4 linked regions of the Homo sapiens genome follow. The protein of the gene in region 4 purifies or fractionates together with the protein of the main gene of each other region. This does not show direct contact. Each region holds a gene or a part of one and is shown on either strand. Other genes may lie near its edges. The genes, in order: TXLNA, RBL2, EDEM2 and TXNDC11.

Region 1 (7,364 bases), on a different chromosome or scaffold from region 4:
ATCCAGCCTGGGTGACAAGAGTGAAACTCTGTCTCAAAAAAAAAAAAAAAGAATCTAGAATCTAAGTCGAGTGTCATTATATCCATGTTTTATTCCTATTCCCTTTTCCCCTTATGTATCCTCTTACTTTAAAGAGGAACTTTAAAAAATCTTAGGGACGACTAGGCAGAGTGGCTCACACCTGTAACTCCAGCACTTTGGGAGGCCAAGGCAGGCAGATTATGAGGTCAGGAGTTCGAGACCAGCCTGGCCAACATGGTGAAACCCCAGTTCTACTAAAGATACAAAAAATCAGCCGGGCGTGGTGGCACGTGCCTATAATCCCAGATACTCGGGAGGCTGAGGCAGGAGAATCACTTGAACCCGTGAGGCAGAGTTTTCAGTGAGCTGAGATCATGCCATTGCACTCCAGCCTGGGTGACAGGGTGAGACTCCATCTCAAAAAAAGAAAAAGGAAAAAATCTTAACGTCACATACATGGAAAGTATCATCTTCTTCACCCCCCACCCCCAACTGAGATGGAGTCTTGCTCTGTCACCCAAGCTGGAGTGCACTGGCGCGATCTCAGCTCCCTGCAAGCTCCGCCTCCCGGGTTCACACCATTCTCCTGCCTCAGCCTCCCGAGTAGCTGGGACTACAGGCGCCTGCCACCATGCCCGGCTAATTTTTGTATTTTTTTAGTAGTGACAGGGTTTCACTGTGTTAGCCAGGATAGTCTCGATCTCCTGACCTCATGATCCGCCCACCTGGGCCTCCCAAAGTGCTGGGATTACAGGCGTGGGCCACCGTACCCTGCCTTTTTTTTTTTTTTTTTTTTTTGAGATGGAGCCTCGCTCTGTCCCTAGGTTGGAGTGCAGTGGCGCGATCTCGGCTCACTGCAAGCTCCACCTCCTGGGTTCACGCCATTCTCCTGCCTCAGCCTCCCGAGTAGCTGGGACTACAGGCTCCTGCTACCATGCCCGGCTAATTTTTTTGTATTTTTTTTAGTAGAGACGGGGTTTCACTGTGTTAGCCAGGATGGTTTTGATCTCCTGACCTCGTGATCCGCCCGCCTCAGCCTCCCAAAGTGCTGGGATTACAGGCGTAAGCCACTGTACCCTGCCTTTTTTTTTTAATTAATTAATTTTTTTAGACAGAGTCTCGCTCTGTCACCAAGCTGGAGTGCAGTGGCGCGATCTGGGCTCACTGCAACCTCCGCCTCCTGGGTTCAAGCGATTCTCCTACCTCAGCCTCCGGAGTAACTGGGACTACAGGCGCGTGCCACCACACCAAGCTAATTTTTTTGTGTATGTCTTTAGTAGAGATGGGGTTTCACCATGTTAGGATGGTCTCGATCTCTTGACCTCGTGATCCGCCTGCCTCGGCCTCCCAAAGTGCTGGGATTACAGGCATGAGCCACCTTGCCTGGCCGAAAGTATCTTCATTTTAAAGTTCACTGTTTGGCTACTCTGTTGACAAGAGTTTAGTATTTCTCAAGGAGGCTAAGATACCTATTCCTTTTTGGATCCTACCTCTATCAGGAGGGTGGGCCTTCCTTGCATTGAAACAGTATGAAACAGTAGCCCTGAATTCATAAGTGGGACACCTTTCTTCTATTGGTAGAGCAGGCAGTTTTTTTCTCCTGCCAATGGTGCCTACTAAGGAGATTTCACTAGGGTACAGTCGTTCATTTGATAAGCATTTGTTGAGCATATCCTCTGTGATGGTACTATGGACAGTACTGGGGCTATAGTGAGGGCAGGATTGAGTTGGTCCTTATGGCAAGGAAGGCAGCTAATCAACAAGCAAAATATAAAGTATGATGGGGAGGGCTGTCTTCAGCACTCATGAGTGTGAGCCCAGGCCTGGAGGGGACACCTGGAGAAGAGGGTGCATGTCTTTGCTCCTGTGCTTTTCAGGGAAGGAGATCACGTTGCTGATGCAGACATTGAATACTCTGAGTACCCCAGAGGAGAAGCTGGCTGCTCTGTGCAAGAAGTATGCTGAACTGGTCAGTTCCCCCCTCCGCGGGCACCTTCCCTGCGTTGGGAAAATCAGCATGCCACCTGGTGTAAGGTTGGGGGTGCAGAGTCAAGTAGGTGGCTTAATTCCTGTTCAGCTTTTCTCTGAACTATCTGTTAAATGGGGAATCACTTCCAGCCAGCCTCTTCAGGGCTGTGCAGCAAGAGGAGAAACTGCATATTCCTTGAAAGAAATTTCTCAAAGAATGATTCCAAGGTGGTAGAGCCCTTGTTCCTGGCCTGAGTCCAAGACACCTTGTGATCTTGATGCTTCTTCCTCAAATACAGATGCATAGAGCCATTATCACAGTTAATAAAACTAACACTAGTCACTTGATACTTTTTCCTTTTACTCCAGAGCAGTCTTCTTGTCACTGCCTCCTCATATTCCCCATGACATTGACTTTTAACAGAAACTAGACTAGCTGTCTTGTAGGATGCCCCCTTCTAGCTTTGTCATCTCTGTGGTATCATTTTACTTCTTTACCTCCTGGTACATGTAAGTGAAGTAGAAGTTAGCTCTAAAGCTTGATCCAATTCAGCTTCAACTTTTTGACAAGAATTCTTCATAAGTACTTCATGTTCCATCACAATAAATGCAAAGCATGCTCTTCCCACTTTGTTGTAACATTGTTCAGTGGGTTGGGGGTGGGGCAGCCAGATTCTTCCATCATCAGGTCCCTTGTCAGAATTTGAACTAACAGATTTATCCATTGATGGTCACAGCCTGTGTATGTATGTATGTATGTATGTATGTATGTATTTATTTATTTATTTATTTTTTGAGACGGGGTCTTGCTCTGTCGCCCAGGCTGGGGTGCAGTGGCACGATCTCGGCTCGCTGCAAGCTCCGCCTTCTGGGTTCATGCCATTCTCCTGCCTCAGCCTCCCGAGTAGCTGGGTCTACAGGCGCCCGCCACCATGCTAGGCTATTTTTTTTTTTTTTTTTTTTTTTAGTAGAGACGGGGTTTCACCGTGTTAGCCAGGATGGTCTCGATCTCTTGACCTCGTGATCCGCCCGCCTCGGCCTCCCAAAGTGCTGGGATTACAGGCTTGAGCCACCACGCCTGGCCTATTTATTTATTTATTCAGAGTCAGAGTCTCGCTCTGTCACCAGGCTGGAGTGCAGTGGCGCGATCTCGGCTCATTGCAACCTCCACCTCCCAGGTTCAAGCGAGTCTCCTGCCTCAGCCTCCCGAGTAGCTGGGATTACAGGTGCATGTCACCATGCCTGGCTAAATTTTGTATGTTTTAGTAGAGACAGAGTTTCAGTATGTTGGCCAGGATGGTCTTGATCTCTTGGCCTCGTGATCCGCCCGTCTCAGCCTCCCAAAGTGCTGGGATTACAGGTGTGAGCCACTGTGCCTGGCCTCTAAGTATTTATTTTAAAATTAATTCATTCCACACACATTTATTAATATTTTCCTGTAAGGAACTTTACTCATCTTTAAAATGGGGAATGTCATACCTGCCTAATGACATTCTTGTAAGGATTAAATAAAAGGTATAAGGAAGATAAGCACCCTTTTGGAGTGATCCAGCCAGGGGAAAATTGCTGATGCAAGAGAGGAAATGAGTTGCTAGAGTGGTGTTGTGAGTAGAGGAGGGGAGCTGAGGCCTGCCCAAGAAGGGGGCTTGGCTGTGGTAACCACATGGCTAGGTCTGTGTGACTGGAGGAGAGGACGGGGCAGGTGGACTGGTAGATGTGCAGCTTGTGCCCCTGATTCTCTAGTTTCTTCTGTGTTTTGAGATTTGATGAGAACGATGAAATAGTTGTCTGGAAGGAGAGGAGTGTGAATAGCATATGCATTGTATTGGGATTGCTGGTCTTCCTGAAATTGGTGGCCATGAATTTAAAGTGAGACTCTTCAAGTAGGGTTGTTATAGTACTGGTGTAAAGCAGGAAGGTGCTTTACTAGGGTTGCAGTACTACTGGGGAAGGGCCAAGAGAGTTGAGGGTGTAAGAAATCCAAGCCAGGTAATGTAGTTATTTTAAAGGAGAGTGGAAGGATGGTTGAGTCAATGGATTGGAGGTCCTATAGGGTAAGAGACTTTCTGAGGATCACAGATACTGATTGGAATGAGCTAAAAAGATAGGTGATGGTAGTCCTGGACTGGGATGCTGGAAATTGAGATAGTGGGTGTGCTCTCTGGTAGTGACAAAGTCTAGATCTGCGCTGTCCAAGATAAATTCGTCTCTAGCTAATTGACATGTGGCCAGTTTGAATTTGAACATGCTATAAATGTAAGATACACATCAGCTTTTGAAGACTTAAGCAAAAACAAAGAATATAAAACATCTTTTTGTGAGAGAGTGTCTCAGTCACCCAGGCTGGAGTGCAGTGGCGTGATGTCCTGCTTCCAGGTTCAAACGATTCTCCTGCCTCACAGCCTCCTGAGTAACTGAGATTACAGGCGCATGCCACCAAACTGGCTACTTTTTTGTATTTTTTTTTTAGTAGAAACGGTTTCACCATGTTGGCCAGGCTGGTCTTGAACTCCTGACCTCAAGTGATCTGCCTGCCTCAGCCTCCCAAAGTGCTGGGATTACAGGCATGAGCCACCACTCCCGGCCTCACTTTTTTACATTGATTCCGTGTTGAAATTGTAATGTTTTGGATATTAGGTTAAATACATATATTACTAAAATTAATTTCACCTGTTTTTTACTTTTTTAGTGCGGCCAGTAGAATATTTTTAATTACTTATGTGGTTTGCATTATATTTCTGTTGTACAGGCCTGGATAGGGTCATGGGAGGGGAACTGAGCTGGGGAAAGGAGTGGGTTTGTGGAAGAGGTGATGGACTGTGAGGCCAGGGAGTTAGAAGGATTATCTGTTGATACTGAAGTGGCCACAAATGAGAAAAGTAATTGTGTTGGGGAGAGCGCTGATGAACGCAGCGCTAACGTTTTGAAGGAATGCGAGGGAGCGATGGGGGTCTGTCTGTTAATAGGCACAAGGTACGGTAGCAGGTGGTCTCATCCTCGGGCATGAGTGTCCAGCAAGTTGGGGAAATGCAACAGCTTGAAGTGGCTCTAGTGGCCCAGAGTCAGAGCTGGAATAGGAATTGGCATCTGCTGGCTGTGTGGCCCCTGCTTGCCCTAGTGAGTTACCATTTCTCTGTCCCTACGGTGGAGCCTTTGGGGTTATTGTGAGTTCATGGGAGGAGCGTGTAAGCACCGGCACAGCATCAGCCCATGAGAGTGCTCCTGGCCTGAGAGGGTAAGGGTCAGGGCAGCTCAGGAGACCCTAGACCTGCATAGTGATCCCCCCACCAGGAAGGCCCCACAAGATGCTCACCTGCCCTCCCTATCCCTGTCCCCAGCTGGAGGAGCACCGGAATTCACAGAAGCAGATGAAGCTCCTACAGAAAAAGCAGAGCCAGCTGGTGCAAGAGAAGGACCACCTGCGCGGTGAGCACAGCAAGGCCGTCCTGGCCCGCAGCAAGCTTGAGAGCCTATGCCGTGAGCTGCAGCGGCACAACCGCTCCCTCAAGGTAGGCCTGGGCCCCCTGGAACAGGTGACTCTGGTTTCCTTGACTTCCACTTAATGTTTCTTTCATGGGCTTTCCTCTTAAAAAGTAGTGCAGGCTAGGGCCAGGCGCAGTGGCACACATAAGTGATTAAAAATCTTCTGGCCACTAAAAAACAGAAATTAATTTTAGTAATATACTTAACCCAATATCCAAAACATTACAATTTCAACATGAAATCAGTGTAAAAAAGCAAGGCTGGGTGTGGTGGCTCACACCTGTAATCCCAACACTTTGGGAGGCTGAGGTGGATGGATCACTTGAGGCCAGGAGTTTGAGACCAACCTGGTCAACGCAGTGAAACCCCATTCTACTAAAAATACAAAAATTAGCCGAGTGTGCTGGCAAATGCCTATAATCCCAGCTACTCAGGTGGCTCAGGCATGAGAATTGCTTGCACCTGGGAGGCTGAGGTTGCAGTGAGCCGAGATTGCATCACTGCATTACAGCCTGGGCAACAGAGTGAGACTCAGTGTCCAAAAAAAAAAAAAAGTAGTGCAGGCTTGTGGCATAGAAATACACTTTCTCAATAATGCCTTACGTTAAGAGAGTACTGCTTGTAATCATTTGACATGTATTAGATAAGGTGAAGGATAAAGTACTAAGAGAATCCATAATGCACTGGCGTTAGTATTTCTCAATGAAATGACAGTCCCCTGGTAAGCGGAGGCCTGGCTCTGACAAGCAGCTCTTGTCCCAGACGTTGGTCAGTCAGGAACCTGGGTCCTTCCCATGTTCTGCTGCTTCTATGGTGAGGTCAGTCTGTGGTTACACCAAGTTTAAATACAGCCTTTTAACTTTCTTTTTTATATGTAAAATCTTACATGTAGTTTTTAGAATGAAATTATTATACATGTACCATTTCATATCCTGTGCCTTTTTTTCACTTTACATAACATTTTTCCCTATCAGTATGTGTAGGGCTATCTTCTCATTATATGGATATATTATATCAGTGCCCTAGTTAAAGCATTTTGGGGGTTGTTTACAATTTTTCATTATTACATATAGAACTATAGTGAAAATTCTTGTTATATTTATCACTGGTCAGTTATATAGAACTTATCTGTAGGATAAGTCATGGAATTGAAATGGCTAGGTCACAGTATATGCAGATTTTTCATTTTAATAGATTTTGCTGGATTGCCTTCCAGTGAGGGGGCAGTGTGCCTTCCCCATCAAAAGTGTTGAGTGCCTAATTCTGCACAACTTTGCAAACCCTGGGTGTTACTAAATTTTAACAGCTTGGTCTCTGGGGGTACAGAGGGGACAAATGCACATTAATCTGAAATCTGGAAGAATAGGCCTTAGGAGATCCGACTTGCTTCAGAATGGCACTTAGCACTTACATGTGTGCATGTGTGCCTGCATTTTTTCTTCCTTTTTTTTTTTTTGGGGACGGAGTCTTGCTCTGTGGCCCATCGCCCAGGCTGGAGTGCAGTGGCGCGATCATAGCTCACCACAACCTCCGCCTCCCAGGTTCAAATGACTCCTCTGCCTCAGCCTCCCAAGCAGCTGGGACCACAGGTGCACACCATCACGCCGGCTAATTTTTGTATTTTAGTAGAAACGGGGTTTCACCATATTGGCCAGGCTGGTCTCAAACTCCTGACCTCGTGATCCGCCCACCTCAGCCTCCCAAAGTGCTGGGATTACAGGCGTGAGCCACCGCGCCTGCCATGTGCCTGCATTTTTCTAGGGGGAGAATCTCACTTGATGTCACCTGATATACAGAGGGGCCCATTGGAACCCGCATTGCACAACATCCTGGAGTCTGGCTACTCCACGCTTTGGGAGCAGGGAGGGCTGTTGGCAGAGACCATCTGTGGA
Region 2 (7,364 bases), about 42 Mb from region 4:
CTTAGTTGTATTACACTTTAAGACATAGAGAAAACATGTAGGTTTGTTTCTGTATACAGTAAATTTCTGTGCTTTTCTATATCTTATGAAACTTGAATAGTTGGCTCTGTTGCCAGGTGAAAGTTTTGCTAGGTTTTTTAAAAAATTAGAATAAGTACATTTAATACACAGGGAAATTTTATCTTGAATATTAAAAGACATTGTTAAGCTATCTTAACCTTTCAGAGTTTATTTGAAAAATCAGAAAGATGTTTTACTGGCTCCTTTGACACCAAGTCACATCTTCTCCATATTTATTGTCAAGAATGTTGACTTTAACTTATTTCTCTGAAGACCTGTCTACCTTAGGGGGAGAACCTGTGATAGATTCTGGTAACCAAAGGTAGAGGAGGGGCAGGAAGACCAATGAAGGCTGTTCTGCATCAAGTTGCCTTTTTAGGGAATGTTCAACTTATTATCTGTCTCTGAAGCAAATTTGAATATTTGGATGGTGGGTGTATTAATTCATTTTAACGCTGCTGATAAAGACATGCCCAAAACTGGGAACAAAAAGAGGTTTAATTGGACTTACAGTTCCACATGACTGGGGAGTCCTCAGAATCATGGTGTGAGGCGAAAGGCACTTCTTAGGTGGCGGTGGCAAGAGAAAAATGAGGAAGAAGCAAAAGTGGAAACCCCTGATAAGGCCGTCAGATCTCGCGAGACGTATTCACTATCACAAGAATAGAACGGGAAAGACTGGCCTCCATAATTCAATTACCTCCCACTGGGTGCCTCACACAGCACATGGGAATTCTGGGAAATACAATTCAAGTTGAGGCTTCGATGCAGACATAGCCAAACCATATCAGTAGGCTTTTGTTAAATCATGGATTTTTTTTGGAACCAAATTTAATCACAATTTTCTTTTATCTTTGAGTGTCTGCAAAAATAGCAGTAGATGGGAATTGTGAAATTCTGTTTCTCAGAGCTGAGAATAATCTTAATTTTTCAGGTGAGCAGAATGCTTATCTTTGCCTCCGAGCATAAGTTTTACAAGAGGGAATGTAGGGAGCTGTACCTTATTTTAGAGTTTTAACTTTTAAGAGACAAACTTTTAGTTAGCTAAAATACAAATTATTCTTTCACACCTTCGTCTTCACATGGATATTGGCGGCTCTTAATGCTGTTATGTTTAAATTCCAAGAATGGTGACATTTGAGTCACTAAAATTTATTGATATTGTAAAGATAAAGTCTTACTGGCTTGAAGTCCCATTTGTGAAGTGAATTAAAGTCTTTCTGGCCTAAAATAATGTTCTTTAAAAAATGTTTATTAATTCTGTGTAATTTTTTTTTTCTTTAGTCCAAAGCACTTAGAATCTCCACACCACTAACTGGTGTTAGGTACATTAAGGAGAATAGCCCTTGTGTGACTCCAGTTTCTACAGCTACGCATAGCTTGAGTCGTCTTCACACCATGCTGACAGGCCTCAGGAATGCACCAAGTGAGAAACTGGAACAGATTCTCAGGTTAGTTTGAGCCCTGTCTGCTTTCTAAGATTTGGTTATTGACCATTTTCCAATTTCCTATTCTTTCATTATTAATGCCTTAATTCACCCATGAATAATTTTTTATCAATTGTATACTCAGTCCTGTTGTGAGTCTATAGAGGACCTAGCAATAAGATGTATAAGTGGAAGATCTTCTTTCCTTAGATTTCTTTAATATAATACAAGACACAGTAACTAATAACACCAGACAGTGTAGAGTAAAACACAAAAGTGTCTTATTGCCAACTGTTCTTTCAAGATTTCAGGGAGTGGTGAGGTGGGGGCGGGGGGAAGCTCAGTGATGATGGGAATTGTCAAAGGACTTTATGAAGAGGGTTGAACCTGAGGTAAGTTCTGAAGGGTGACTCAGATTTGAAAAGATTAATAGAGTTCCACATGTTCATAAAGCAGGACAAAAACCACTGTAACTTTTGTAAGCTCTATAAAACATCCTTATCCTGGAAAGGAAGTTCACTGCATTTAGTTCCTTTGATCTCCCTGAGACTGGTAGGAATATCATTGAGTTTTAATTAAAAGCCCAGTAGGCTGAATCTCATCATCTTATGCATAACCTTTGGCAAGTTGATTTGAAAAGTTACCTCCAAGGTCCCTCTCAGTCCTAAAACCTTATGATATGATAACGTAGACCCAAAAGGACCCCATTTTATTTCTGATGATGGTATATCAAGAAGACCCTATATGTACACATAAGTAATTTCCCACTCATAGCCAGGCTTCTTAAATGCCAACTACTTTTCCTTTACATTTTAGTGAAGTCTGCTTTATTCATAAACTTGATTGTGATTTATACTCAACAAGTTATATCTCTGTGGCCTCTTCCTGAGTCATGTTTTTCAGATGCACCTTGTTTGCCTTGAATTTAGAAGCATTTCGTAAATACATTTCAGAAGCCATCTTAATCTCTGTGTCTTCCAGATCGCTTTACAGTTTCTAACTAGGCATAACAGCATTTTAAATCTTAGGTACCATTAGTGGGGTTAAATAAATATTACCAGTAAATACTAGGTAAAATAAAGGGTGCTATTTTTGTTGAAAGGTATGTGTGTGTGTGTTCCCAGAAAAATTCTGCTTGTATATGTATTCAGTAGTTATCTCTAGCAGGACTGTAATTGATTTTTATTCTCTTTATAATTTTTTAAACTTGCTTCATTTTCACAAAGAATATGTATATAATTATATATATATTTGTGATCAAGATAAAAACAGTTGTTACAAAAAGCTTACATGGTGATAATTTGTATAATGCTTCTGGATTGAACATATATTGCTTTCTAATAATAGAAAGACTGAAGTAAACCTCGTTGGCGGGAAAAAAATGTAGAATGCCAGGAACAGTTTATGTGAGTCTGTAGTATGGGTTTTACACCCCTTCATTCTATTTTCTTCCAGGTGTTCTTAATGGGAGTTTTACTGTCCTCTAGGGAAATAGTTAAGGGCAAGTTTGGGATAATCAGTGACTGGGGATGTGTAGGACAGGTGGGGGACAGTCATAGATATCGAATGGGCCCAGGCCAAGGTTGCTAAACTTCCTGCACTGAAAGGTGTATCCCCGGCCGGGCGAAGTGGCTCATTCCTGTAATCCTAACACTTTGGGAGCCTGAGGCAAGTGGATCACTTGAGGCCAGGAGTTCGAGACCAGCCTGGCCAACATGGTGAAACCCCATCTCTACTGAAAATACAAAAATTAGCTGGGCGTGGTGGCAGGTGCCTGCAGTTCCAGCTACTTGGAGGCTGAGGCAGGAGAATCACTTGAACCTGGGAGGTGGAGGTTGCAGTGAGCCAAGACTGCATCACTGCATTCCATCCTGGGTGAAAGAGCGAGACTCTGTCTCAAAAAAAATATATATATATAAAATAAAAGGTGTAGCTCCCACAAGAAAAGTTTTTTTTTTTTTCATTCAAACTGGTAATACCACCACCTTTGAAAAGGAAGTATGGGATCTCTTGGATTAATTTGGGAAGTGTATAGTTTCTGTTCAGAGTGTTTTATATTTACATGTTAGTGAAATTATAGAAACATTTTATCCCCTTGTGACTTGACAAGACCTTTAAATTATGTTATTTCTCATTACCTTTTTTAGGACATGTTCCAGAGATCCAACCCAGGCTATTGCTAACAGACTGAAAGAAATGTTTGAAATATATTCTCAGCATTTCCAGCCAGACGAGGATTTCAGTAATTGTGCTAAAGGTAAGGTTTAACATTGTTATTCTGCTTTTATGTTTGAAGTTTAACTAAATGGAGTCATTTCTTACTAACTAAGAAAGATGAGGAAAAGATTTATGACTTTAGACTGAAGGCTAGGATATGGCTGTCCAATTTTTCTGGTCAACCAACTGATTTCTGAGCCCTTCTCAGTAAGATAGAAATTTTAGAATGGTATCTTTATTATATTGGACTTCTGATGCTTTTTTATCTGCAAATCTTTAGGTTTTTTTTGTAAACTGGAAATTAAATAGAAGTGTAGTGATTCTTCAACATATTGAGAATAAGGACAGGAGATATCACTGTTATGGGCCCAAACCTGGCCTAGGAATTGTTTGCTGTCAGGAATTGGAACTAAGTAGGTGTGGACTAGTAAGCCAATTACATACCTCTTAGCATTGGTCTGTTTTGTTCAAACATAGAGGAAAAAAAAGGGTGTTAGTCTTAAATGATATTACAGTTCCTTATGTGCAAATTTCATTTAATAATTTTAGAAAAATGTGACTGTTACCATGAAGAAAATTAAGGTATCTTAGGGATAATTAAAACACCAATCATAAGAAGTGTGCATATCTAAAGTATTGGGTTGGTTTTGAATTTTATTTTGTGAGTAAAGGAGGAGGAATGGGCCTTTATTTTCTTTGTGTGCCATTTTTGTGGGGTTTTTTTTTTTATTATTTCTACAGAAATTGCCAGCAAACATTTTCGTTTTGCGGAGATGCTTTACTATAAAGTATTAGAATCTGTTATTGAGCAGGAACAAAAAAGACTAGGAGACATGGATTTATCTGTGAGTAAAATAACCAATGTATTGATCAGCGCAATGAAACATAATTTCCTTCCTGCCCTATTCTGTGGGTTGTTTTTTTTACTTTATATATAGTCTCCTTTCATACACAAAAGTTTTTAATTTTGATGAAATCCAATATATTTTTTCACTAGTTGCCTGTGCTTTTGTTTTATGTATGTATGTATGTATGTATTTACCTATTTGAGATGGAGTCTTGCGCTGTCGCCAAGGCTGGAGTGTAGTGGCACGATCTCGGCTCAATGCAACCTCCGCCTCCTGGGTTCAAGCAATTCTCCTGCCTCAGTCTCCCAAATAGCTGGGATTATAGGCATGTGCCACCATGCCCAGCTCATTTTTGTATTTTTCGTAGAGATGGGGTTTTGCCATGTTGGCCAGGCTGGTCTTGAACTCCAGACGTCAGGTGGTCCGCATGCCTTGGCCTCCCAAAGTGCTAGGATTACAGGCGTGAGCCACCGCACCTGGCCTGTTGCCTGTGCCTTTGGTGCTTCAGTAGCTTTTAATTAAAAAATAATAATTATTGACAATGTTGGAAAATTATAAGCAAAAAGAACAAAATAAAAATCATCTATGATTAATGTCATCCTATGATAAACATATTCACTTTTGGTACATGGTCATCTAGCCAGTCACCTGCCTGCCTGCCTTTCTGTTTTTTTGGGTTTGTTGTTGAGACAGAGTCTCACTCTCTTGCCCAGGCTAGAGTGCAGTGGTGCAATCTCGGCTCACTGCAACCTCTGCCTCCCAGATTCAAGTGATTCTTGAACAGTGTTGCCTGGGCTGGTCTCAAACTCTGGACCTCAGGTGATCTGCCTGCTTCGGCCTTCCAAAGTGCTGGAATTACAGGTATGAGCCACCTGCCTGGCCCCTTTCAATATTTTTTTTTCCTTTTTTTTTTTTTTTTTTTTTTTTGAGCCAGAGTTTCGCTCTTGTTGCTCAGGCTGGAGTGCAGTGGTGCAACGTCGGCTTACTGCAACCTCTACCTCCTGGGTTCAATTGCTTCTCCTGCCTCAGCCTCTGAGTAGCTGGGACTACAGGTGTGTGCCACCACACCTGGCTAATTTTCTATTTTTAGTAGAGATGGGGTTTCACCATGTTGGTCAGGCTGGTCTCAAACTCCTGACGTCAGGTGATCTGCCCACCTTGGCCTCCCAAAGTGCTGGGATTACAGGCGTGAGCCACTGCGCCCGGTCCCCCTTTCAGTTTTTTATAGCACTTACTGTAAATACTGTTTTGAAACATCTTTCCCTGTCATTGTTCTTCTAAGCATCAGTGTGTGTGTGTATTTTGGTTAGAGATGTAATCTCTTTTAAGATACATTTTATAATAGGTAAGGTTTTAAAATTCTCATACATTCCTTTTATATATTTCCTCTACTAAAAAATGGGCTTTATTTATATAATTAAGAAAGGTTTTGTAAGAAAATAAGGACACACTTTGCACTCACTCAGAAAATGAGACTTTCTTTGGTATTTTCACTTAAGTTCACTGGGTATGAAATGACTTTTTAGACTAAGTAAATGTTTCTAATGCTAATAACTTTATTTTATAGGGTATTCTGGAACAAGATGCGTTCCACAGATCTCTCTTGGCCTGCTGCCTTGAGGTCGTCACTTTTTCTTATAAGCCTCCTGGGAATTTTCCATTTATTACTGAAATATTTGATGTGCCTCTTTATCATTTTTATAAGGTATTTTTAAAAATATGATACTAATGGGGATATTGTAGATGAGACCAACTTCCTGTTGTTAGTCATTTAGTTCAAGTTAACATCTAAGAACATTTATTCTGTTTTTATTTACATAGTTAATCTCTATTTGTGGAGTAGAAAAGAAATAGAATCTTAAGACCTATGTAAATTCTTTTAATATTGTATGAAAGATCTATTTTGGGTAAAAGCTTTGATTCCTCTCTATCTAATAAAAGTTTTTAGAATACTGTGATTTTTATGAGCTGAGAAGGCTTAAAAAAAGTAGCACACATGTCACTAGCTAATCTTGTATAGCAGCCTTTTTTTATTTTATGAAAATTAAATACCATTGAAAATGTCAGAAAAAAAATAAAAAGTTCTCTTTCATGTGTTACAGAGAGGCATAGAGTTAAAGCATTGATTTGGTAGCTAGTTCTTTTTTTTTTTTGAGATGGAGTCTTGCTCTGTCGCCCAGGCTGGAGTGCAGTGGCGCCATCTCAGCTCACAGCAAGCTCCACCTCCTGGGTTCACGCCATTCTCCTGCCTCAGCCTGCCGAGTAGCTGGGACTACAGGCGGCCGCCACCACACCCGGCTAATTTTTTGTATTTTTAGTAGAGACGGGGTTTCACCGTGTTAGCCAGGATGGTCTCGATCTCCTGACCTCGTGATCTGCCCGCCACGGCCCCCCAGAGTGCTGGGATTACAGGCTGGTAGCTATTTCTTGATACTGACTTAGCATATGAGTTTATCTTAACTCTCATAAGATAGTCAAAACTAATTTTTATAGTGGCATAGATTAAATGTTTAGAGATTTTTATATGAAATTTTAAGAGTAATGTTTTTCAACCTCAATGTACAAAACATGTATTTTCATTAAAAAATTTTGAAATACATCACAATGTAAACCATTTTATATAATTCATAGTTTGAACTATAATTATTTACAAAGACAGTAAAAGGAAGAGCGGCTGTTTCAAAATAATACTTCAACTTGTAATTTTGACTAATTTCTTGTCTAAATATTTAAAAATATTTAATAATTATTCAGTGAACCAAGACATTTTTTATTTCAGGTGATAGAAGTATTCATTAGAGCAGAAGATGGC
Region 3 (7,364 bases), on a different chromosome or scaffold from region 4:
AAAATTTTTATTTTTGAGACAGGGTCTTACTCTGTCACCCAGGCTGAAATGCAGTGGTATGATCACGGTTCACTGCACCCTTGACCTCCCAGGGTCAAGCAATCCTTCACCTTGGCCTCCCAAGTAGTGGGGACTACAGGCACGCACCATCATGCCCAGCAAATTTTTTTTTATTTTTTGTAGAGACGAGGTCTCACCATGTTGCCCAGGCTGATCTTGAACTTCTGGGGTCAAGCAATTCTCTCGCCTCAGCTTCCCAAAGCACTGGGATTAAAGGCATGAGCCACTGTGCCTAGCCGAAAAAGTTTAATTTATAAATTAGGCATGGGAAGAGATTAACAACAATAACTAATAATAAAGCAGAACAAGTATAACAATATATGTTATAGAAGTTATGTGAATTTGTCTTTTTGGTAAGAGACAGGAAAAAAAGAAATTATGTAAATTTAGTGCCTCAAAATATCTTTGTTTTTTTAGAGAGGGGGTCTTACTATATTGCCCAGGCTGGTCTCAAACTCCTGGCCTCAAACAATCCTCACTTCCAAAAAACTGGGACTACAGGCGTGAGCCACTGCACCCAGCCTCAAAATATCGTATCTGACTGTACTCACCTATTTTCAGACTGCAGTTGACCATGGATAACTGAAACCATGGAAATCAAAACTGTGGATAACGGGGGACTACTGTAGCTATAATAATAATAGTAATTAGGTGCTCAACAATTCCTCAAGATTGCTAGTGTCTAAGGGCCTGGCGGGTAAGATGTATTTATTCAACAGGTATTAATCTATTACCTACCACATGTAAAGCACTGTGGGGAACATAAGATGAGTAAGGCATGGATTCTGCATTCAATTTGTAGAGCTGTAACTGTTGATGAGAGCTAACTGCAAGAAAGATGCTGAAGGTCCCAAATTCTGTAGAAGGATCAAGCTACTTCCTGGGCAAGGCGACATTTAAGTTAGGCTTTGAAGGGTGAAAAGAATTTGGACATAGGAAGACAGGAAAAAAGACATTCTAGGCAAAGAAGATGCCATGTGCAATGGCCAGGAGATAAGAAATCCAGGGCTACATACACAGAATGCAGCACGCTTCAGTTGGCTTTTGCAAGAAGGCATCAAGTGCTGTAGTGGGCATGAAGTGGGCAGTGTAAGTCCATAGTGACTCTGAATTCAGAACTGATTCTGCAGGCACTCAGGCCAGGCGTGGTGGCTCACACCTGTGATCCCAACACTTTGGGAGGCCAAGGCGGGCAGATCACCTGAGGTCCGGAGTTTGAGACCAGCCTGGCCAACATGGTGAAACCCCGTTTCTACTAAAAATACAAAAATTAGCTGGATGTGATGGTGTGCGCCTGTAGTCCACACCATCACATGCCCAGCTACTCAGGAGGCTGAGGCATGAGAATCACTTGAACCTGGGAGGCAGAGGTTGCAGTGAGCCTAGATTGTGCCACTGCACTCCAGCCTGGGAGATGGAGCAAGACTCTGTCTCAAAAAAAAGTTTTTAAACAAATCACACATCAGCAAGAAAAATGAGGGGAAAAGCTCCCTTACTCTGCCATTTTTACCTAGGAACATGGCCATGAGCTTCTTATCCTGAAGCAGGATGGCTCCTTTCACCAAGTACTCAAAGTAGGAGTCCACGCCAGCCCCGATGCCTGCGTCCTGGGCCACCCACTTGCCAGTGAGCACATCAATGTGGTTGCCGACCTGAGAGAGAGAAAGACACACGGTCCCAACGGGAAGGCCGATGGCCAAAGAAGGATCTACTCACCCCCAACCCTGACTGCCCAGGGAGATGCAGGGCAGGTGCCCCAGTGCTTCTTGGGAAACATGCAGACCCTGAGAGGGAAGGGCAATGCTGGATCATGGCCAGCCTTCCTGTACATCTGCATAGTAGAGATGCATCTCATGCACATTTATGAGGACTTAATTATACACATTGAGCAAAAAATGAAAAAGAAAAATGATTTGGAGTGTTTATGTCCTGCCTAGAGTGAGTGTGAGATGGGAGATGAGAATTTGCTGTTGCCGCAATCTGTCTGATTTCTCAGCACCCAGCATGTGATTCCACTATCTGAAGACACAGACGTGCTTTACGTATTTCCATAAATTAACTCAATAAGAACATCCACCAAGAAGCTGACAGAGTGGTTCTAAGGAGAGAAACCGAATAGCTGGAGACAGGGGCAAAAGGGGACTTCACCAATGTCACTGAGTACCCTTTTTTGTATCCTTTGACTTTTTTTTTTTTAATTGTTCAGTCTCTGTAGAGACTGTGAAAAATTGGCAATGCCGGCCAGGCGCGGTGGCTCATGCCTATAATCCCAGCACGTTGGGAGGCTGAGGGGGGCAAAATCACTGGAGGTCAGAAGTCCGAGACCAACTTGGCCAACATGGTAAAACCCTGTCTCTAATAAAAACACAAAAATTAGCCAGGCATGGTGGTGTGTGCCTATAATCCCAGCTACTCAGGAGGCAGAGGCATGAGAATCACTTGAACCCAAGAGGGGGAGGTTGCAGTGAGCCGAGATCGTGCCACTGCACTCCAGCCTGGGCGACAGGGGGAGACTCTGTCTCAAAAAAATAAACAAAGATACGTATTTTTCTATTTTATTGTATTTATTTTATTTTTTGTATTTTTAGTAGAGACATGGTTTCTCCCTGTTGGTCAGGCTGGTCTCGAACTCCCGACCTCAGGTGATACGCCTGCCTTGGCCTCCCAAAGTGCTGGGATTACAGGCGTGAGCCACTGCGCCCAGCCAAATATATGTATTTTTCATATGGCTTAGACCCTCATGGAAGCTGGTAACTTCATCTGGTACTCAAAGAAATAGCTAACTGTTCCGCGTTGGTTTGTGTCCCCCCAGGAGCACAACCTCATTCTGCCTGAAAGTAGTTGATTTGGAAGGTAAGTCCTTGTAAACACCAGTAGAGGAGGGGGAAGTGAGGCAGGGCAAGGGAGGCGGCATTTAAGGGGTATGCCATCAGGCAGGTTTCCACCATGGGAACTGGAGTTCAATCTTGCTGGGGAGCTTAGGAATTCAGTGTAGAGCTCCAGCTTCGGAGTGATCCCACCCAAGGGGCAGGGAACTGGAATGTTTATCCACCAACTCCCATCAGTATCAGTTACCGGCTTGAGAGCTACTCATGGGTAGCATTAAATCCTGGTACCCTCAGCCAAAGGCAAGCAGAGTGGCTCCAGGCACCAGAGGAGACCCACAGGCAAAGAGGCGCAGGTGATGGCAGTTGGAAGACTGGCCAGTGTGCATGGAAATGTTAAGAGTTGAGAGGATATGGGCATGGCACCAACAGAGTCTACTACGGTCCCACTGCTGGAGCAAAACCTGCCTGAGATGGACTAAGGGATTTACTACAGGTCTCCAGCGGGGCACCTTTTTTTTTTTTTTGAGATGGAGTTTCGCTCTTGTTGCCCAGGCTGGAATGCAATGGCGCGATCTCGGCTCATCCCAACCTCCACCTCCCAGGTTCAGGCAATTCTCCTGCCTCAGCCTCCCAAGTAGCTGGGATTACAGGCATGCACCACCACGCCCGGCTAATTTTGTATTTTTTAGTAGAGATGGGGTTTCTCCATGTTGGTCAGGCTGGTCTCGAACTCCCAATCTCAGGTGATCCGCCCGCCTCAGTCTCCCAAAGTGCTGGAATTACAGGCGTGAGCCACCGCACCCAGCCTTAGGGGGGCACCTTCTTAAGGGATTTTCGGGGAGTCCTCACACAAGCTTTACTTTTCAAGCTGGATTAGCACCAGACTGCATAAAATGTGCCTAGACCTAAATGCAGTCTTCCTAAGTCAGAGTGACTCAGCAAAGTTGGTATTAATATATTAACGTTACTGCTGAAGTAACTGAGGACCAGAGAGGTTGAGTGACTTGCTCAGGGTCACACAGTTTCGATGTAGCAAGGCCAGGGCTTGAATCCAGTTCTGACTAAATCCAGTGTTATGTCCTGGATGGCTTTGGCTCAATTACTGTTAATCTTATTGATTATCCCATTTAGAAGCTGAAACTGACCTTAGAGATCATCTGGTCCAAAGTGTGTTCAATTTCCATGGGTTAATAGTACTGGAAGATAAAGGGAAGCTCTGGTGTTAAATAAGTTTGGGAAATGTTAAATTAAACAAAGTTGAATAGATTTCTTTACTAGAGGATTTTTATTCTGCTCATGTGCATTCTGACTCTCCAAAAAAGGGGGGGATATTATATCTAATATTCCCCTAACTTAATTGGCCAAGACTCATTTTTTCATGCAACTGCCACTCAGTATCTCTCAGAACCGGTGTCCTAAGAAACACAGCAAATACAGATAGACGCTAAAAATGAAGGCCGGACGAGCTGATGATCTGAAGCCGTCAAGTGAGTCAGGGGCATGAAACATACGACCCTCTTCCTAGAAATCAGAGAATCTCAACTGGTCAAAGCTGAATGCAGCCCCTGCTGCCTGCCAGAAACGTGCTTTCCCACTCTCCTCCCCACTCCAAGCCAAACTTGAATTGGAGGCTTGGTCTATTTTTGGTGTCCTGAGCCCAAATCCTGGACCACTCCCAAGGTCACCCTAAGTTTTCCTTGGCTTGACTGCAACTTATTGCTCAGAGCCCTGGGCCTCGTAAGCAGGGACTCAAACAGGAAGGGCAGCAGCGAACCTACCAGCCCGATATCTGACCGGCTCTCCCAGAGGCGCATCAAAGCCACTCTGGCCACATCTTCGAACACCGGGTCACCAGTGAGGCTGCTCAGGGTGGCAAATTCAACAATGAAGGTCCCAATCCCTGCCGTACAGGTGACAGGGGTCTCTCCTGGGTTCACGCCATGAAGTAAGTTCACTGTTCCATATGGCATGCCAGTGGGGGTCTGAAAGGCTGAACAATCGACAAATTATGATCCCGGACAGGAGCAGGGGGATAGGGATAGTTCTGATACACGCCCAAAGCCTGGGACCTTAGCCAGCACTTCCCTCTTTCTCCTGGGTATCCTGCTAGAGTCTGAGCCAGAGAAAGATAAATGTCATAACTGGAGGGCCCTGAGCAGCCACCCAGCCCAGATGCTGTCAAACACTGCTCTGCATAACCTTGGGTTCCTGCTCATCATGAGGGGGCAGGGAGCAGGCTGTGCTCCACACACACTCGCTTTAGCTAGAGAGCTTTACCTATTTTTATTTATTTTACACTACGCCTTCAAAGCCCAGGCAGGTAACTTATTGTGATGCAGGCAGGGTTTAAGCCACAGAAAGTGGTGGGGCTTGTGGCACAATGACAAGAGTAAGCCCCGTTCAAAGCCATTCATAGACTTTTGGCTCACGCCTATAATCCCAGCACTCTGGGTGGCCAAGGCAGGCAGATCACTTGAGGCCAGGAGTTCGAGACCAGCCTGGCCAACATGGTGAAACCCTATTTCTACTAAAAATACAAAAATTAGGCAAGCGTGGTGGTGCACGCCTGTAATTCTGGCTATCTGGGAGACTGAGGCACGAGAATCGTTTGAACCCAAGAGGCGTGGGCTGCAGTGAGCTGAGATTGCACCACTGCACTCCAGCCTGGGTGACAGAGCGAGACCCTGTCTCAAAATAATAATAATAATAAACAAAGCCATTCATAGACTTTAAATAAAGATCTCTGCTTTAAATAAAGAGTATAGGGGCTAAATTATTTTTAAAGGGAAGCAAAATAGGATATAAACCACTAAACCACGGATATAGTATGACCCTCGATTTATAGGTAGGGAAAACCATGCCTGTAAAGAAGTAATTCAGCCACAGGTCACACAGAGAGAGTCAAACAGAGCTGGGATGGGAACGCCTCCCCTGTGCCCACCCCAGCCCCAGTCCAGTTCTCTGCCCGCCCCACCCAAGTGGCACCCAAGTGCCTTCTGGTTCAAGACGAGAACTGGACAACCAGCCAGAGGCAGAGATTTCCTCTCTGGGCCTAAAGGTCAAACAACTCCAGAGCAGCCTATGCGTCACCAAACTGTGAACAAAGGTGTCGACACTTCCAAGAACCACAGGGTCTAGCAACTGTGTCTGCCACAGACAAGAAACTTGCAATCTGGCAGGCACCAGCGGGAGAGCAAGTCACAACCAGGAAGGGCTCTAAGCAATATTTCAGAAAAAGTCAGGCTGTAATAAAAAGAAGAGGAGTGACAAAATCCTGTTTCTTGACCTTTTTTTATAAAATGACCAATGACCAAAAATAATTAAATTATAAAGGAGGAGCAGCTAGGCAGAGTTTCCAGAGTTTCCTCCAGGGATGAATCACACAGGACACAATGTCTGCAAGGAGACGCTCAAGCCATGAGCCATGAGCCATGAGTGAGACCTGAACCTAGCTCACCCGCTATCCTCAGCTCTCCCCCAAAGGAGAGGCAAGTGCTATGTGAGAAGGATAAAGAGGCCGGGTGTGGTGGCTCACGCCTGTAATCCCAACACTTTGGGAGTCCAAGGCAGATGGATCACTTGATCCCGGGAGTTCAAGACCAGCCTGGGCAACATGGTGAAACCCCATCTCTACAAAAAAAAATTTAGCCATGCATGGTGGCATCTGCCTGTAATCCCAGCTACTCAGGAGGCTGAGGTGGGAGAATCAACTGAGCCCAGAAGTTCGAGAGGCTGCAGTGAGCCATGATCACGCCACTGCACTCCAGCCTGGGCGACAGAGCAAGACCCTGTCTGAAAAAAAAAAAAAAAAAAAAATTAAGAAAGAAAAGGGATAAATAAGTGAGATGGCCAAGAGGTGATGGAAAGCACAGTGTGACGTGTCTGGGTGTGAACAGTCCTCAGAGCCTCCACCACACCCTGAAGGGAACACAGTGTACAGTTGATGCTACTGAGCCTGGTGTTACTGCCCCACTAGACAAAAACATGGAGGCTTGACCTGCAGCCCTGGACACAGCTTAGCCACAAAACAAATCCCTCTCGTTTTAAAAGTGTTGGACGTTCTCTAAGCAGTTTCTCCTTCCTGACCTCATTTTAGCCTCTCCAAAACCCGATGTGGTAGGGAAGTAGAAATTATGATTCTCATTTGATAGATGGGGAAACCAAACTGTGGAGAGAGGCCAGACACAGTGGCTCATGCCTGTAATCCCAGCACTTTGGGAGGCCGAGGCAGCCAGATCACTTGAGGTCAAGAGTTTGAGACCAGCCTGATCAACGTGGCGAAACTTCATCTCTACTAAAAAATACAAAAATTAGCTGGGCATGGTGGCAGGCGCCTGTAATCCCAGCTACTCAAGAGGCTGAAGCAAAAGAATTGCTTGAACCCAGGAGGCGGTGGTTACAGTGACTTGAGATTGTGCCACTGCACTCCAGCCTGGGCGACAGAACAAGACTCCATCACAAACAAACAAACAACAA
Region 4 (7,364 bases):
GAAATAAATGTCTGCTCTTTTCAATGTCTGTGGCTTGGCTGAATTCAAACCAGCTAATATGGAAAAGGTTGATTTGAGGTTGAGCCACAGTGAATAATCGTGCGTTTCTGGGCATCTAATCTTTACTTACCTGTGTCTCTTCATCCTGCTCACCTTTCTTTTACCTTGATTTAGAGGGAAAAAAAATTGTCTGTGTGTAGATACATATGTATGTATACATGTATTTATTTTGCTTTATTCCATTTTGTAATTTCAAAGCTGCCTCGAATGGTCTTTGCAAGGAAGTGATGTAGGGTGTGAATTTCATAGGAAAATTGGGGTTTCAACAGGCCTTTTTTCTATGTTGCCCCGGCTGGAGTGCAGTGGCTATTCACAGGTGCAATTATGGCATGCTGCAGCCTCAAACTGCTGGGCTCAAGTAATTCTCCTGCCTTAGCCTCCTGAGTATAGTAGCTGGGACTATAGGCACATGCTACTGGCTCAGCAACAACAGGCCTTCTTATTTGCAACCAACTCGAGTTTTTTGTACCCGAGACATACCCCTCATAGCTGCAGGAAATCTTTGCTCTATGTATAGTTTCTCTAAAGCGTGAAGCAGATTGATGAGTTAAATAGAAACTCACCAGTGTTTCTGATGGAGTAGAGGCGAGCGTTTCTTCTCCCTGGCCAATATTTGATTTTTGATTGGCCTTGTACTTTATCTGGCTCATTTAGGAATGCTTCTGAATATGCAGAGCAAAATTACTGAGTTGCTCTTTATCCTTTCGTTGACTGTCAGACCTACATTTTTCCTCAGATTGCATTATTTGATGCTTACATTGCATTTTTTTTTTCTTTTGAGATGGAGTTTTGCTCTTTTTTCCCAGGCTGGAGTGCAATGGCGTGATCTTGGCTCACTGCAAACTCCGCCTCCCGTGTTCAAGCGATTCTCCTGCCTCAGCCTCCCAAGTGGCTGGGATTACAGGTGTGCACCACCATGCCCAGCTAATTTTGTATTTTTAGTAGAAATGGGGTTTCCCGGTGTTGGTCAGGCTGGTCTTAAACTCCTGACCTCATGTGATCCACCCGCCTCTGTCTCCCAAAGTGCTGGGATTACAGGCGTGAGCCACGACTCTTGGCCATGTGCAGTTTGAATGGTAGAAAAGTAATTTCTCCAAAGAGCAGAATTTTGGATCTCTTGAAAACGTGTCTTTTTTTTTTTTTTCCTGTAGTGCCCTCCCCACCTCTTAGGTGGCTATCTTCTTGTCATTCAGGTCTCAGAGCTTAAATTATAGCACCTCCCAAGCCACCACTCCATCAGAGGAGCTACCATGCCCTTCTGTACATCACCTTGTTAAATTTTTCACATAGTGAGCATTTAGTATATTTTTATTGTTTACACATTTGATGTTTTTCCTGTCTTCCTCCCCTAGAAAGTGGTCTCCTCGACAACACGCAGTGCTAGCTGCCGCAGCCTTAGTGCTTGTGCCCAAAGCACAGTCACAGCTGCTCAGTAAAGAATTTTTGAATAATTGTGTAAGTGATTTTTTCAGGTTATGAAGGCATTCTGCATAGACTGAAAGCTCTCTGATTGAAGGTTAAAATATTAGTTTGAGTGAATAAATAGGTGACTTGCTCCGTTGGATACTTCTGCCTGTTCTGGAATTTCATATAAATGCAGTCATAGTGCATGTACTCTTTAGCACTTTTTTCACTCAGCATAATCATTTTGAGACTCATCCAAGTTATAGTACATATGAATAGGTTTTGCTTTTCGTTTTTATTGTGGAGTAACATTTAAGTAAATGGGTAAGAATATACCCCAGTTTATCATTTTACCTCATGAGTCATGCCAGATTTCTTATGCTCACTATTTACATAGTTTTTCTTTTCCCATCCTTATGCCTTTATCCTGTGTCTTTATATTTAAGATATATCTCGTTTAGATAGTGCATAATTGGGTCTTGCTTTATCCTGTCTGGCAGTCTGCTCCTCCTAATTAGGTTGCTTCCTTTTTTTTTTTTTTTTTTTTTTTGAGAGACGTAGTCTCGCTCTGTTGCCGAGGCTGAGTGCAATGGCATGATCTTGGCTCACTGCAACCTACACAATTCTCCTGCCTCAGCCTCCCGAGTAGCTGAGACTACAGGTATGTGCCACCACGCCCGGCTAATTTTTTGTATTTTTTTCAGTAGAGATGGGGTTTCACCATGTTAGCTAGGATGGTCTTGATCTCCTGACCTCGTGGTCTGCCTGCCTCGGCTTCCCACAGTGCTGGAATTACAGGCATGAGCCACCGCGCCCGGCCTCTCCTTTTATATTTAACGTAATTGTTGAGGTAGTTGGGTTTAAGTCTACCTTCGTGCTCCTTGTTTTCCATTTGTACCGTCTGGCTTTTGTTCTTTTCTTGTTCCTTTACTTACTTTCTTTCTTTTTTTTTTTTTTAGATGGAGTTTTGTTCTAGTCACCTAGGCTGGAGTGCAATGGTGCAATCTCGGCTCACTGCAACCTCCGCCTCCCGGGTTCAAGCGATTCTTGTGTCTCAGCTTCCCGAGAAGCTGGGATTACAGGCGCCCATCACCACGCCCAGCTACTTTTTCATTTTCAGTAGAGACAGGGTTTCACCATGTTGGCCAGGCTGGTCTTGAACTCCTGACCTCAGGAGATTTGCCTGCCTCGGCCTCCCAAAGTGCTGGAATTACAGGCTGAGTCACCACGCCTGGTCTCCTTTACTTTCTTTGGGGTTAATCTCATCGCGTTTTAGGTTTCCATGTTTATGTTCTCTATTTATCTCGTTTAGATAGTGCATAATTGGGTCTCATTTGTTTCTTAGCAAAGCTGCCCTAATGGTTTGTGGTATGTGAGTGTAGATGCATGGACAGCTCAGGGTGTTTACTAGGGCCCTTCTACTTGGTGGGATGCAGCCTGGGCCTAGATCTTTAGGTCTTGATGGGGAAAGTTACTTCTGACCACTTGTTTGTTCAGCGTTCTTTTCTTTTTCCTCCTGATCTGTTTCTTGTGGGAAGCTCAAGTGTTCAAAAAGCCCATTTTCCAGTTAAATAGGCTGTTGCTTTGTTACTTATCTTCATTAGTCTTAGGATTATGATATATATCTGGAGGAATGTATATTATTGTTTAATTGTTACTGTTACCTGAATGCCCTGGATAAGTACAAGCCAACTCCAGCTAATAAGCTTAATGTTTTCTCAAAGTTGAGTTGATTGTAAGCATCTCCCGTGGAAATCTTGTTAATGGTAGTTTACATGCTCCCTCACCGTAATTCTGAGCTTGCATGCTGGTGGCTCTAAAGCCCTGGAGATAAGTGGCTTTTGTGGAGAGCCAGGCTGCAGAAAAAGGAGGATGAAGTCTTTGGGATGTGGGGAGCAGGAATATGGATTATTCAGAGACATCCTTCTCTGCTCTCCACTGCCCTTCCAGCCTACACCTAGGGGACAGAATCTCAGAGAATTGTTTCCAACGTATTATTCATGTCTTGCATTTGCTCAGCCAGATGTTGCCTTTCTAGGGCAGTGATTTTGGGACTCCATTTTCTTATTCAAAAGAGGATTTTCCTTTTAAGCTTCATTCTACTTCCACAGAGCTATTTTTAGAAGAAGATAAACTAAGCAATCTTTTCTGTGTTTGCTCTTTTTTAGTCGAGCAAAAGATGTGATAATACCAGCAAAGCCACCTGTCAGCTTTTTCTCCTTGAGGTCTCCAGTCCTTGACCTCTTCCAGGGGCAGCTGGATTATGCAGAGTACGTTCGACGGGATTCAGAGGTGGTACTGCTCTTCTTCTATGCCCCTTGGTGTGGACAGTCCATCGCTGCCAGGGCAGAAATTGAGCAAGCAGCAAGTCGGCTTTCAGATCAGGTAATGCTCACATTCAGCTTAAGAATCAAATGACTGTCAGTCCTATATGTAGGGCAGGATGTCCCCACAGAGACACCTTGCCCAACGGGCAGACTTTGCCAAGGTGAACTCCAGGAGTCGTTTCTAAGTTACAGAGCTTTCTATAAAGCAACAGAAAGGATTTCCAATTGTGGCGATTGTACTCCAAGGCAAGTGTGGGAGCAGATTCTGAATCTCATAACACAAGCCAATGCTTATCCTGGGGTGCCATACTGTTTGGTTTCAGCATTGAAAAAGGTAGAGGGACTGAAAATCCTAGTTCTTGCATATCCATTTGATACTTGCTAGTTAGGTATTTTAGGTAAGAAAATGTATGTATGATATGACTGCATTGTAACAAGGCCGACCTTTTTAATATATGGACCAGAACTATATTCAGCAGATAAGGAATGCCACCTTTGGGCTAGGTAAGAAAGATATATAGGCAAATAAGTCACCTGTTATGGCAGTGGTTTTCAGCCCAGTGGACCCCAGTTGTGCTTTAGAAAATAAGTATTTTATGATGTCCCTTTTTCTTCCTAAAAAGGAATTCATAGATGATAAAGTTTTCCTATACATGTAATTTCAAAATAATCTAATGCACGGATTGTAACATAGAGGTGAGGGGGGAAGAAAGTAATTTGTAACTAAATGATATATATTTTAGTATGTAAGTGCACAGTCAGAACAGGTCCATATACCTTTATGTAGAATCACTGAATGGGATAGTTACAAACGTAGACTGATAAAGGTGATATGTTGGTGACTTACCTGCCACATGGACATTGCTCTTAGTAATTGATTATCCTAAATGGTGAACAGTCTTGGTAAAATCCTGAACTATGCAAAGCCCTTTCTGCTCTCAGTTTACATAGAAGTTGCATTCCTGAAAAATTCAGTGAACACAAAAAGCATGCTTTAGATTCACATGTAAAATGGAGCTAGGTACTGGGCTTTGATAATAACAGGTTTTCCCCAACATCAGTGTTTGGCAGGCGTTTTGAACTCCTCTGGAATGCTATGGACGACTCTTCCGTGTGCAAAGCAGGTTTGAGTGTAGCAGGACATCTACCAACACCCCTGCCCTACGTATGCACTGTAGCTTCCCCCAGTCATTGTAGCAAGCCAAAAGCATCCCACAGATTTCTAAGACTCTCCTGCTCAGAACCACTGATGTGAAGTAACGTGTGTAGGCAGCTGAGTTCCAGAAGTTCATTTGGAACTGTCATTTGGTTTTTCTTAGAAACTGTGGAGCCTTCCAAATTTAGAGAACAAAGTTCACGTTGCCCATGTTGGGCACAAGAGGGATATCTATTGTGTTTTATTAATAAGTGTGAATTAGCTACCTTACTGTCAGCCTAAGCAGTATGTCCTTCTGAGTGATGGCATTAGTATAATAATAATGATATTCTGGTGTGCCAGGCCCCATGCCAATTCTCAACCACTTTGCAAGGCGATGCTGTCAGCCCTGTTTTTCTGAAGCAGGACTGCAGGCATAAGGGGTGAAGCAGTTTGTTTACCATCACGTAGTGGTGGGGGTTGTAGTGCAATCCAGGGACTGCTGCTTTTTTTAAAAAAAAAATTTCAGCTCCTTCCAAATTGAGAGCTTACTATTCCATGTACTCAGTAGGGAAAAAAGTGGGTTTATTTTTGGAAACACACAGAAATCTTTTGAACTGTATTGCATGGTAAGATTGGTAAACACGGTCCAAGTCCTGCCTGGACATCATAGATAAGAGTATGTCTTTCTTTTTTGTTTTAGTGATAAATTATGACCTTTGAAAACTCAAAACAGTTTTTTTCATAGTTTCTGTTTCAGTGAGAGAGGAATCATTCTATTTTTAAATTTCATCTTTTAAATCTTGGTAACTTTTCAGTTGTTATTCATAGTCATTTGAAAACCTTTTTTGGCTCTGCAGGTGTTGTTTGTGGCAATTAACTGTTGGTGGAACCAGGGGAAATGCAGAAAACAGAAACACTTCTTTTATTTTCCTGTAATATATCTGTATCATCGGAGGTAAGAACTTTTTAAATAGCGTCTCTCATTCCAGTTTAGTTTGCCAGTTTATAAATGAATTTTGCATTTTTTCTATATTAAAGTATTAGATATTCACTATAGAAAATTCAGATAATACAGATAAGCAAAAATTAAAAAAGAAAGATCTGGATAATCCACCCCCCTTTTTAAAGCTAAACATGGGATCAGGCAGTAATACTATTTCCTAAACTGCTTTTCTCACTTTTTTGAGCATCTTTTCATGTCATTACACATTTTACAGCATTGTTTTTAAAAGTACGAATTACTCCAATGCATTTCAGATATCGTAAGAGTGTTTTGTAAAAATACACAAAATTTCTTATCGTTTCATCTGGAGGCATAGCAGAGTCCAGAGTGTATCTTACCATCTATTCTATTGGGAAGAAAATTACTACAAGTACACAGTCCCATGTCCACAATTCTTTTTTTTTTTTGAGACGGAGTCTCACTCTGTTGCCCAGGCTGGAGTGCAGTGGCGCGATCTCCGCTCACTGCAAGCTCGGCCTCCCGGATTCACGCCATTCTCCTGCCTCAGCCTCCCAAGTAGTTGGGACTACAGGCACCCACCTCCCTGCCCAGCTAATTTTTTTTGTATTTTTAGTAGAGACAGGGTTTTACCGCCCATGTCCACAATTCTAAAGTCACAAAGAGGGCTGAAAAACGGAAAGAGTTTTATTTTATCTTATTTTATTTTATTTTATTTTGAGACAGAGTTTAGCTTTTGTTGCCCAGGCTGGAGTGCAGTGGTGCAATCTCGGCTCACTGCAGCCTCCGCCTCAGGGTTCAAGCCGTTCTCCTGCCTCAGCCTCCCGAGTAGCTGGGATTACAGGTGCCTGCCACCACGCCCGGCTAATTTTTGTATTCTTAGTAGAGACGGGGTTTTACCATGTTGCCAGGCTGGTCTCGACCTAGGCTGTACTAGAGTACAGCCCAGACCCTGCTGTGAATGATAAGTAATGTCTAAAAATCTGACTCAAAGAGTTTTGGAGATAGGAGATAGGACTTTGGACTTTGTTCAGGGTGATTGGCTTGAAGTTTGTTGAAAGTAAAATGGGTAAAGGAGATTTGATCAGTAGAGAGCTTTCCTTTTTCCTTCTAAAGTTCTTGGGCCATAATCAATGGGGATTTATAGCAAACATGCACAAACAGTGATTTGTGGGTTCTCTGTCACATTCCATCCCATTTCCGTGTCTGTAACATAAACTGTTGTCTGGCACATAGTATTGACTCCCAGGAACTATTAGGTAGTATTTGGGCAAAAACACACTTTTCTACCCCATCTCTACCCCCACATTTTCCTCTGGATATTAGATGTTTGTATTTTAATATTTGTAGTAAGAAGCCAGTTTTTGCTTAGGGACCACTAAGACCATTTTCAGATTTCTTCCCCACTTTTTGGCCAGTAACTTGGAGGTTCTGCCTTTACATGGAAGGTTCAAGTACAGGTTTTTTCGGATAC

Evidence for each region.
Region 1: the proteins of TXNDC11 (region 4) and TXLNA purify together in Homo sapiens (affinity purification with mass spectrometry; 3 studies listed by BioGRID and IntAct, with this or other methods). This does not show direct contact.
Region 2: the proteins of TXNDC11 (region 4) and RBL2 purify together in Homo sapiens (affinity purification with mass spectrometry; 3 studies listed by BioGRID and IntAct, with this or other methods). This does not show direct contact.
Region 3: the proteins of TXNDC11 (region 4) and EDEM2 purify together in Homo sapiens (co-immunoprecipitation; 4 studies listed by BioGRID and IntAct, with this or other methods). This does not show direct contact.

What each region holds. Positions count from the first base shown.
Region 1 is NC_000001.11:32,182,627-32,189,990, forward strand, and holds part of TXLNA (alpha-taxilin), read left to right. Parts: intron 1-1,898; coding exon 1,899-1,990; intron 1,991-5,327; coding exon 5,328-5,498; intron 5,499-7,364. UniProt on the Homo sapiens protein: May be involved in intracellular vesicle traffic and potentially in calcium-dependent exocytosis in neuroendocrine cells.
Region 2 is NC_000016.10:53,458,107-53,465,470, forward strand, and holds part of RBL2 (retinoblastoma-like protein 2), read left to right. Parts: intron 1-1,344; coding exon 1,345-1,511; intron 1,512-3,634; coding exon 3,635-3,744; intron 3,745-4,445; coding exon 4,446-4,549; intron 4,550-6,119; coding exon 6,120-6,257; intron 6,258-7,331; coding exon 7,332-7,364. UniProt on the Homo sapiens protein: Key regulator of entry into cell division. Directly involved in heterochromatin formation by maintaining overall chromatin structure and, in particular, that of constitutive heterochromatin by stabilizing histone methylation.
Region 3 is NC_000020.11:35,130,072-35,137,435, forward strand, and holds part of EDEM2 (ER degradation-enhancing alpha-mannosidase-like protein 2 isoform 1 precursor), read right to left. Parts: intron 4,879-7,364; coding exon 4,667-4,878; intron 1,713-4,666; coding exon 1,571-1,712; intron 1-1,570. Other genes in the region: MMP24-AS1-EDEM2 (ER degradation-enhancing alpha-mannosidase-like protein 2), read right to left, coding at 1,571-1,712, 4,667-4,878. UniProt on the Homo sapiens protein: Involved in the endoplasmic reticulum-associated degradation (ERAD) pathway that targets misfolded glycoproteins for degradation in an N-glycan-dependent manner.
Region 4 is NC_000016.10:11,732,502-11,739,865, reverse strand, and holds part of TXNDC11 (thioredoxin domain-containing protein 11), read left to right. Parts: intron 1-3,632; coding exon 3,633-3,849; intron 3,850-5,786; coding exon 5,787-5,884; intron 5,885-7,364. UniProt on the Homo sapiens protein: May act as a redox regulator involved in DUOX proteins folding. The interaction with DUOX1 and DUOX2 suggest that it belongs to a multiprotein complex constituting the thyroid H(2)O(2) generating system.